Homo sapiens: one gene and its partner. The protein of the gene in region 1 interacts with the protein of each later gene in a biochemical or structural test. Each region holds a gene or a part of one and is shown in the gene's direction. Other genes may lie near its edges.

What was found.
Region 2: of the proteins of SCG3 (region 1) and FAM20C, one has a biochemical effect on the other in vitro, tested with the Homo sapiens proteins (one large-scale study listed by IntAct).

The regions. Positions count from the first base shown.
Region 1 is NC_000015.10:51,680,185-51,684,463, forward strand, and holds the start of SCG3 (secretogranin-3 isoform 1 precursor), read left to right. Parts: upstream 1-1,318; 5' UTR 1,319-1,571; coding exon 1,572-1,653; intron 1,654-2,332; coding exon 2,333-2,385; intron 2,386-2,894; coding exon 2,895-2,940; intron 2,941-3,034; coding exon 3,035-3,250; intron 3,251-4,279. UniProt on the Homo sapiens protein: Member of the granin protein family that regulates the biogenesis of secretory granules. Acts as a sorting receptor for intragranular proteins including chromogranin A/CHGA. May also play a role in angiogenesis.
Region 2 is NC_000007.14:251,301-255,113, forward strand, and holds part of FAM20C (extracellular serine/threonine protein kinase FAM20C precursor), read left to right. Parts: intron 1-831; exon of another isoform or gene 832-1,343; intron 1,344-3,813. UniProt on the Homo sapiens protein: Golgi serine/threonine protein kinase that phosphorylates secretory pathway proteins within Ser-x-Glu/pSer motifs and plays a key role in biomineralization of bones and teeth.

The DNA.
Region 1 (4,279 bases):
GATTTTAAAATATGACTTAATTTTTTAATGCAGTATACTGGGATAATAATGCTATGTTATTACTGCCAATAAAGAGTTTTTTGTTTTGAAGGAGCTGTTAGATTTAGAATACTCTTTAGATCCTCAAAGGAAGTATTTGAGTGACTTCCAAACTCAAAAACCTCCGGAGCAAGGGAGATTTGTTTGTCAGCTTGGTTGTTTGTTTGTTTTTAGGTACTTGAATAACTTCCTCCTTGAAAAGGAGGGTGCAGAAATCAAAGGCCTGATTGTGCTGAATCCTTCTCTTTGGTCATTATTCAGACTGGTTCCCAGCATGCCGCAGTCCAGAGGAAAAGGTCCAAGTTCTGTTTAAAAATCAGAGACTAAAGAGCTTACTCAGCATCCTGCTCACATTAATGTTGCTTGTTTTCATCATTTAAAGTCTTTTGATAGTTCCTTGTATACAATAACCTTAGGCTTCTGGGAATATTCTCAGAACATAGGAAGCACCTCCCTGACTTAGTAAAGATGAAAAATGCTTTTCATGACTATCCCCTCTCTTGAAGGACCCCCTGGAACAGCCAGGTCTTTGGGCATAATTAAATTCTGGGCAAGATTTTACAGAAATGCAGCTTCTTTTTTCTAATTTAGTTGTGTGGTGTGTGTGTGTAAAGTGGGGGAGGTTCCACTTGGTGGGGAAAGGAGAATTTGCCATTGCTGCTCGTCTACTCAGGACTGTTTCTGTTGTTGTTGTGTTTCAGCATCAGAGAGTGAGAGTGTATTGCAGCAATCTGACTATTTGGAAGACTGTTCCTTGAATTTCCCAATTCAAAAGCCTCGGTAGAGCTGAGGGATGCTTGATACGTCAACACAGACCACAAAAGGCAGGGCTTTTCTAAAGAGATTATAATTATATCTACCTTTTGGGTACAGGAGGTGAATGGAAGGAAGGGATTCTGGAGCAGATATCCCAAAAGAAGAATCCCGAAGCAGAACTCCTCGCACAAGGTTATCTAAATCTCCTTGACAGGTGCACAGGCAGAGAAGGCATTTGGCCCTTGAAGTAACATTTACTTGAGAGGTTGGGACAATTCTGTCACGCTTAGGACAAGCCAGCTGACCCTGAGCCCAGGAGCACCCTAGGACTGCAGCACAGAAAATACACCAGCTGGCCGGTCGCCCCTCCTTTGTTCCATTCCCGGGGGATTGGAGTAGCGTTGGAGTCACCGACGCCATCCCCTCCCGCCTCTGGCGTGCATGGAGCATGCGCTTCCTTCCTCACTTCCTCTGCAGGAGGGAGCGAGAGTAAAGCTACGCCCTGGCGCGCAGTCTCCGCGTCACAGGAACTTCAGCACCCACAGGGCGGACAGCGCTCCCCTCTACCTGGAGACTTGACTCCCGCGCGCCCCAACCCTGCTTATCCCTTGACCGTCGAGTGTCAGAGATCCTGCAGCCGCCCAGTCCCGGCCCCTCTCCCGCCCCACACCCACCCTCCTGGCTCTTCCTGTTTTTACTCCTCCTTTTCATTCATAACAAAAGCTACAGCTCCAGGAGCCCAGCGCCGGGCTGTGACCCAAGCCGAGCGTGGAAGAATGGGGTTCCTCGGGACCGGCACTTGGATTCTGGTGTTAGTGCTCCCGATTCAAGCTTTCCCCAAACCTGGAGGAAGCCAAGGTATGTGAACACTTTTCTTCTTCCTACCTTCCTTTTATTTCGCCACGAAAAGGTAAAGTTTGGCATAATACGTGAGCTGTAAATCACCCTGACGCGTTTTCTGATCAAATCATATCCATGAATACGGACAGAGAAATCAGTTCGAATTTAGAGACAGAAGACAGATTTTTTTTCTTCACTTTTAAAATGATAGAGCAATAATATGGGTTGTTTTTAAAGATCTTATTTTGAAAAGGGAAGGGAACCTTTTTCACCTAAAGTGGCTTGGATTGTTTTCTAGTTGCCTTACAACCTTTCTCAGACAGTCTATTCATTATATATGCAGTATATGATGAAAGAGCTTTTAGTGTGCCAATAATACCAATCCAAATTATGCTCTCTCTAGCTGAGAATAGCTGATAACCCTAGTGTTAGAACTATATGTTAAATTTCTGGTCAGAAAAAAAAAAAAGTGTGATTCTGTCAGCTCAAGAAATACACCAAGATAATAAACAAGGCAATATTGATAATTACTATTATTGTATAATCTTGATAATCTTTGTTAATATGCATTTGTTTCATAGTCATCCAAAATTATTTCTCCTAATATTTTTCCTTTTTATAAAAATTTTATTTAATAAGAGGCATATTTTGTCCTTCAACGCACAATTAAATTTATATTCACATGTGTTTATTCTAGACAAATCTCTACATAATAGAGAATTAAGTGCAGAAAGACCTTTGAATGAACAGGTAGGTCAAAAGTAACATTATGAATGCTATTTCATTTTGATTTAGTTATTATTATTTAATGTAATTATGCTGTGACATTTTGGTCATTTTGAATTTACAAACATCAGGAACTTAATAGTTAATTGACAGAAATTAGGACGGGAAATCTAGTTTTGGTAAATTCTATGCCCTAGCAGTTATTTACATTGAGTTCTGTATAATGAATACATAGAGTAACTATATAATAACCCAGTAAGCTCAGCATCACATCCACTCTGTTGTAAGATTGCCTAATTTACCAGAGATTTCTCTTTCAACAATATTATAGGAGAAAGAAATTAACACTGACTGAGCATCTACCCTTAATTTTATCTCATTTAATTATTATAACAGTGCTCTGAAATAGGAATTATCCACATTTTACAAACAAGACAATTAAATCCCATGGAGATTAAATCATTTGGCTCTTGTACTTGGTAAGTAGTGGAGCAATGATTTTAAACCAAGTCTATCTCCTGTTTGCTTCACAGATTGCTGAAGCAGAAGAAGACAAGATTAAAAAAACATATCCTCCAGGTAAAAAGAAATCATATTGATGTTAATTTAAATAATGTAGGCTATGAGAATCTGAACTAAAATGGCTGTGTTGGGTTTGGGGCTATTCTTCCAGAAAACAAGCCAGGTCAGAGCAACTATTCTTTTGTTGATAACTTGAACCTGCTAAAGGCAATAACAGAAAAGGAAAAAATTGAGAAAGAAAGACAATCTATAAGAAGCTCCCCACTTGATAATAAGTTGAATGTGGAAGATGTTGATTCAACCAAGAATCGAAAACTGATCGATGATTATGACTCTACTAAGAGTGGATTGGATCATAAATTTCAAGGTAAATGAGAAAAAAAGAACTTTTTGTTAACGTGGAGTTTCCTATAATGGGTTAAGAGAAAGTCCAATATTTTAAAAATATCTTTTAAACATTCATAATCCTTTATTAGTCAAGTCCAAAATTGAGATAAAGCATATATTTACTGATAACATGTAGAGCCCCAGCTCCACAGAGTGCCATATTTTATTTTCCCTTTAAAAATTCCTTTAGTGATGCTCTGAAAACATTTTTTAATCTAGTATTTGTATTTTATGGTATTAAATTCATTTGAACATTCAGATTTATTTTAACAATGAGTACACACAAAATATCATAATTTTCAAATAATTAGATCAGTAAAGTACCCTCCCACCCTGCACAAAAAAGGTGAAATATCCACTATTTCCTTTTCAGTGTTTCCTCCTAGCCATATCTTTTCTCCTTAGGTCATCCTAACCTTTACGTGGCTTCAATTACATCTATATCCTAACATCCCATATCACTAGGCCAGACTTCTCTTAGCTATAGACCTATTTATCTGTTTACCTATTCGACATTTTCCCTTGGCAGTGTCAGAAGCACCTCAAATTTAGCATGCCCATGATTAAACTCATAATCTGTGTCCACTTCACAACCTAGACCTCTTAGAGTACTGTTTCTTTAGGAAAGGCACTACTATCCATCCAGTTTTTTAAAGACAGAAATCTAGGATCAAACTATTTATCTTTTCCCTCACCTCTCAAATTCTAATCTGCCAAAACTTACTAATTTTATGTCTGTGTATCTCTCAATTGTTTTTCTCTGTACTTGTCCAAACTCCAATCCTTGTCCAAGCTCCAATTATGTCTCATGTAAACTATAGCAAAATCTACAGTTCTCCCAGCAACCACTCCGCCTCTCCCCAACTCATTCTTCATTTGGCAGCCAATGTGGTAGTTTCCTTACCCGAAGTCAGGAGTTCAAGACCAACCTGGCCAACATGGTGAAACCCCATCTCTACTAAAAATACAAAAATTAGCCAGGAGTGGTGGTGGGCACCTGTAGTCACAG
Region 2 (3,813 bases), on another chromosome or scaffold:
TTGAGCCCAGGAGTTCAAGATCAGCCTGGACAACGTAGCGAGACCCCATCTCTACAAAAAATGAAAAATTAGCCAGGTCTGGTGGCATGCATCTGTGATTCCAGCAACTCAGGAGGCTGAGGCAGGAGGATGGCTTGAGCCCAGCAGGTCTAGGCTGCAGTGAGCTATGATCGGGCACCACTGCACTCCAGCCTGGGTGACAGAGTGAGACCCCGTCTCAAAAAAAAAAAAGACTGAGTTGATTATTAGTCCAAGCAGGTGAATTAAGTCACCTCTATGTCCCATGTTGGCTGACACTTGGAATCCCCAGGTCCTCAGCAGGCCAGGGACGGTGGTCACCGGAGTGCCCCTGAGCTCTGTGCTGCAAGGCGGCCATCGACCACCTTTGGTGCCGTTGCTGGAATCCCTTCTCACGTCTCCCTGGAGCCAGCACTTTATTAAGCGCTCCAGCAGCTTCCCTGGCCACTCCTGGTTCTGGATATTAGTTGCGTTTTCCAGGGCAGCGCAAGTTTCTCCCCTGAAATCCAAGACTTCCTCGGCCACCAGAGGCCCCAACAGTTCCATGTCCCTGCCTGGACAGACGAGTCCTTGAATCTCCCAGAGCAGCCAGGCCCAGCATTGTCAGGCGCCCCTGAACGCAGCCCCTGGAACCCCACTGCTGCCACTCCAGCCGCGCTGCCCTGTCAGTCCGATTTCTTCCAGAAGCCTCTGTGAGCATTTGACTTTCTCTCAAGCAGCAGGGGCCCAGGAGCCCGGATTCCTCTCCTAGAGAACAAAATCTGTTCAGATTCGTTTGCTCCACTTTGCTTTGCATGTGTCTCCCAACCACAGATGCCAGGTGACCTCAGAGGCCCTGCCGGAGCCAAGGGCACATCAGAGGGCTGAGCCCACTGTAGACACCCCCTCGGCCTCCCGACCAAGGATGCCAGGTCATCTCGGAGGCCCTGCCGGAGCCGAGGGCACATCAGAGGGCTGAGCCCACTGTAGACACCCCCTCGGCCTCCCGACCAAGGATGCCAGGTCATCTCGGAGGCCCTGCCAGAGCCGAGGGCACATCAGAGGGCTGAGCCCACTGTAGACACCCCCTCGGCCTTCCGACCAAGGATGCCAGGTCATCTCGGAGGCCCTGCTGGAGCCCAGAGCACATTGGAGGGCTGAGCCCACTGCAGACACCCCCTCGGCCTCCCAACCACGGATGCCAGGTGGTCTCGGAAGCCCTGCTGGAGCCCAGAGCACATTGGAGGGCTGAGCCCACTGCAGACACCCCCTCGGCCTCCCGTGGCCTGAGTGACCCTCCCGTGGGGTCAATCAGAAAAGGGAAAATCCCATCAGCCAGGAACAAGGTGAGGGGGCGAGAGGTGGCCAAGGCCAGTGCTCGGGGAAGGTGGGCTCTGGGAGGGAGAAGCAGGAGGCTGAGCCCCAGGCAGCCCCCTGCCCCACGTAGGGATTGTGGAGCTCAGGTTCAGAGAGGGCAATTAGGACCCCAGCACCGCACAGCTGTGTAGGGGCCGGGCCGCAGTCAGAGCCCACATCTTCTAAGCCCCAAACGCTCACAGAACACACTCCCCTACTTCTCACGTAAGTTACCGTCTGCACGTTGCAAACGTCCCAGAGGTGCACAGGTCATCCGTGCACAGCTTTGCATTTCTGCAAGGTGAGCGCCCCCAGGACCAGGCCCAGGTCCTCAGCAGCTCCGGAAGCCACTCAGCCCGACACAGCCTGGACAGAAGGGCTTTGCCATCATCCGCTTCGCCTTTTTTCCTGCCACGGTGGCCTGGGCTGGGCAGGGCGGTCCTCAGGACTCTCTCCAGTGCTGCGTCCAGCTTAAATGCAGGTTGCAGGAGACACGTTTCCAGCGATGGACCCAGTTCGGGCACCCAGAGCCGCTGCCCTAAGTAACAGTGTCCGCCGGGCCCGCAGCTGTCCAGGGCACAGCTGTCCAAGGTGGCAGATGGCAGACGTCCGCCTTGCAAAACGCTCCTCCTGCTGGGTCAGCCCCGACACAGTCAGCGAAAGGAATGGTGGGAGACGCTTGAGCCGCAGGGTGAAGGAGCCATCTTCGTCCTTGCCAGGAGCCACACTCTTGCCTGTCTGCGCTCTCCGGGAGGCCAACCGTGATGCCATTTCCTGGTGACTGGAGGAGGCAGGATCTCTCCTGGGTTTGTCCGCTACCCTGGCTTTCTCCTTGCTGTTTGTGTCTTTTATTATTACTAAAATGGAAAAGGACTCACGCTCCTTCCTCCCAGAAAGCCCCCACTCCAAGTGCAGGGCAGCCTTCGTTACCTGGACAGCTGCCTCCCGTGGCTTCTTTGTGTAATTCCCAGCCCGTGATGCCGGCGTTGCTGGGACCCCCGCTTCCCGGGCGAGGGGCTGGGCACAGAGCAGGGAGGCACTTGCCTGAGGTCACACAGCTCCAAGCCCTCCTAACCCCGCCCGGGAGGCCCCTTTAATACCCGATTTGGATCTGCAAAGAGAAATGGCTGTGGGCCCGAGAAATGCCTTTCTCTTTTAACACGATACCATCTGAAACCGGCTTAGGCGAGGACGGGAGGCTGTTAACAGCAGACGAATTTTAAGCCTCCAGCCAATGAGCGCTCAGATGAAGATTTTCCTCCTGAAATGGAGCTCCTGCCCCGGTGGGGGCTGCCTCGTCCGACTGTGGGCTGCCGACTAATCTGTATCAGCACGAGACAGGATTGCAGCTGGTCTTTCCTTGATCGTTCGTTCTTACAATAATGACCCAGCGTTGGCAGTGGGGTGAGGGGGCGCGGGAAGGAGGGGGCAGGCAGGTGATCGGGGCGTTGGAACCAGACCAGCCGGGACCTGCCGGGTGCGTGGGGTGTGGTGGGGGCCAGGTCGGCCTGGCACCCACCCCGTTTCCTCTCCGAACCTCAGCTTGTTCAGCTAAGAAAGGGCAGCCGGGACCGGCCACCCTCCTGTTCACTCCGCTGGGAAGCGCCCTGCCGAACCTGCCTTCTGATCCCACGGGGAGCCTGCCCTGCAGCCAGGAGAGACCCCTGGAATCACTCAGCCTGGCTGCATAGGAATGCTGGGACTGGGGGAGCTGTGAGTGAGGTTCGGGGCTCCGGCCCCAACAAAACCACGTTCTCACCAGTTCTACAGCCCCAGGCTTTCCAGAGTTTCTCCACAAACAAATAAAGCAAGAAAAACTAGATTTAATCAGCAAATAAATACAGGAATAGCGCCGTCGGCCGGGCCTCCAGCATCAGAGCAGTGAACCCGCACTGCTAGCGGGCCTGGACAGCGCTTGCATTTTTCTGATTATTCTTTCTTTATTAAGGTATAATTCATGTACCACAAAATTTACCATTTAAAAGCGTACAGTTCCGTGGTTTTTAGTATATCCACAATGGTGTGCAACCATCACCACTGTCTAAATCCAGAATGTCCTGCTGACCCCAAAAAGGAGCCCCGTACCATGAGCAGGCGGTCACCGTTCCTCACCCCGCAGCCCTCGACGAGCAGCGTCCCACCCCCAGTCTATCTGGATTTGCCTGTTCTGGGCGTTTCATATTAAGAGGGTCATACGACGTGTGGCCTCCTCTGTCTGGCCTCCTTCGCGGAGCACAGGGTTCTCGGGTTCAGTGAGGGCTTCATTCCTCTTCTTGTTTCATTTCGTTTCGTGTCATCGCACGGATGGACCATGTTCACCTGGCGTGTCCACTCCTCTCTTGATGGACATTTGGGTGGATTCTCTCTTTTTCGGCTGTGGTGAGCGGTGCTGCTGTGAGCATTCGTGTCTGAGTTTTTGTATAGAAATGTTTTCTCTTCTCTTAGGGGTTTACATGGGAG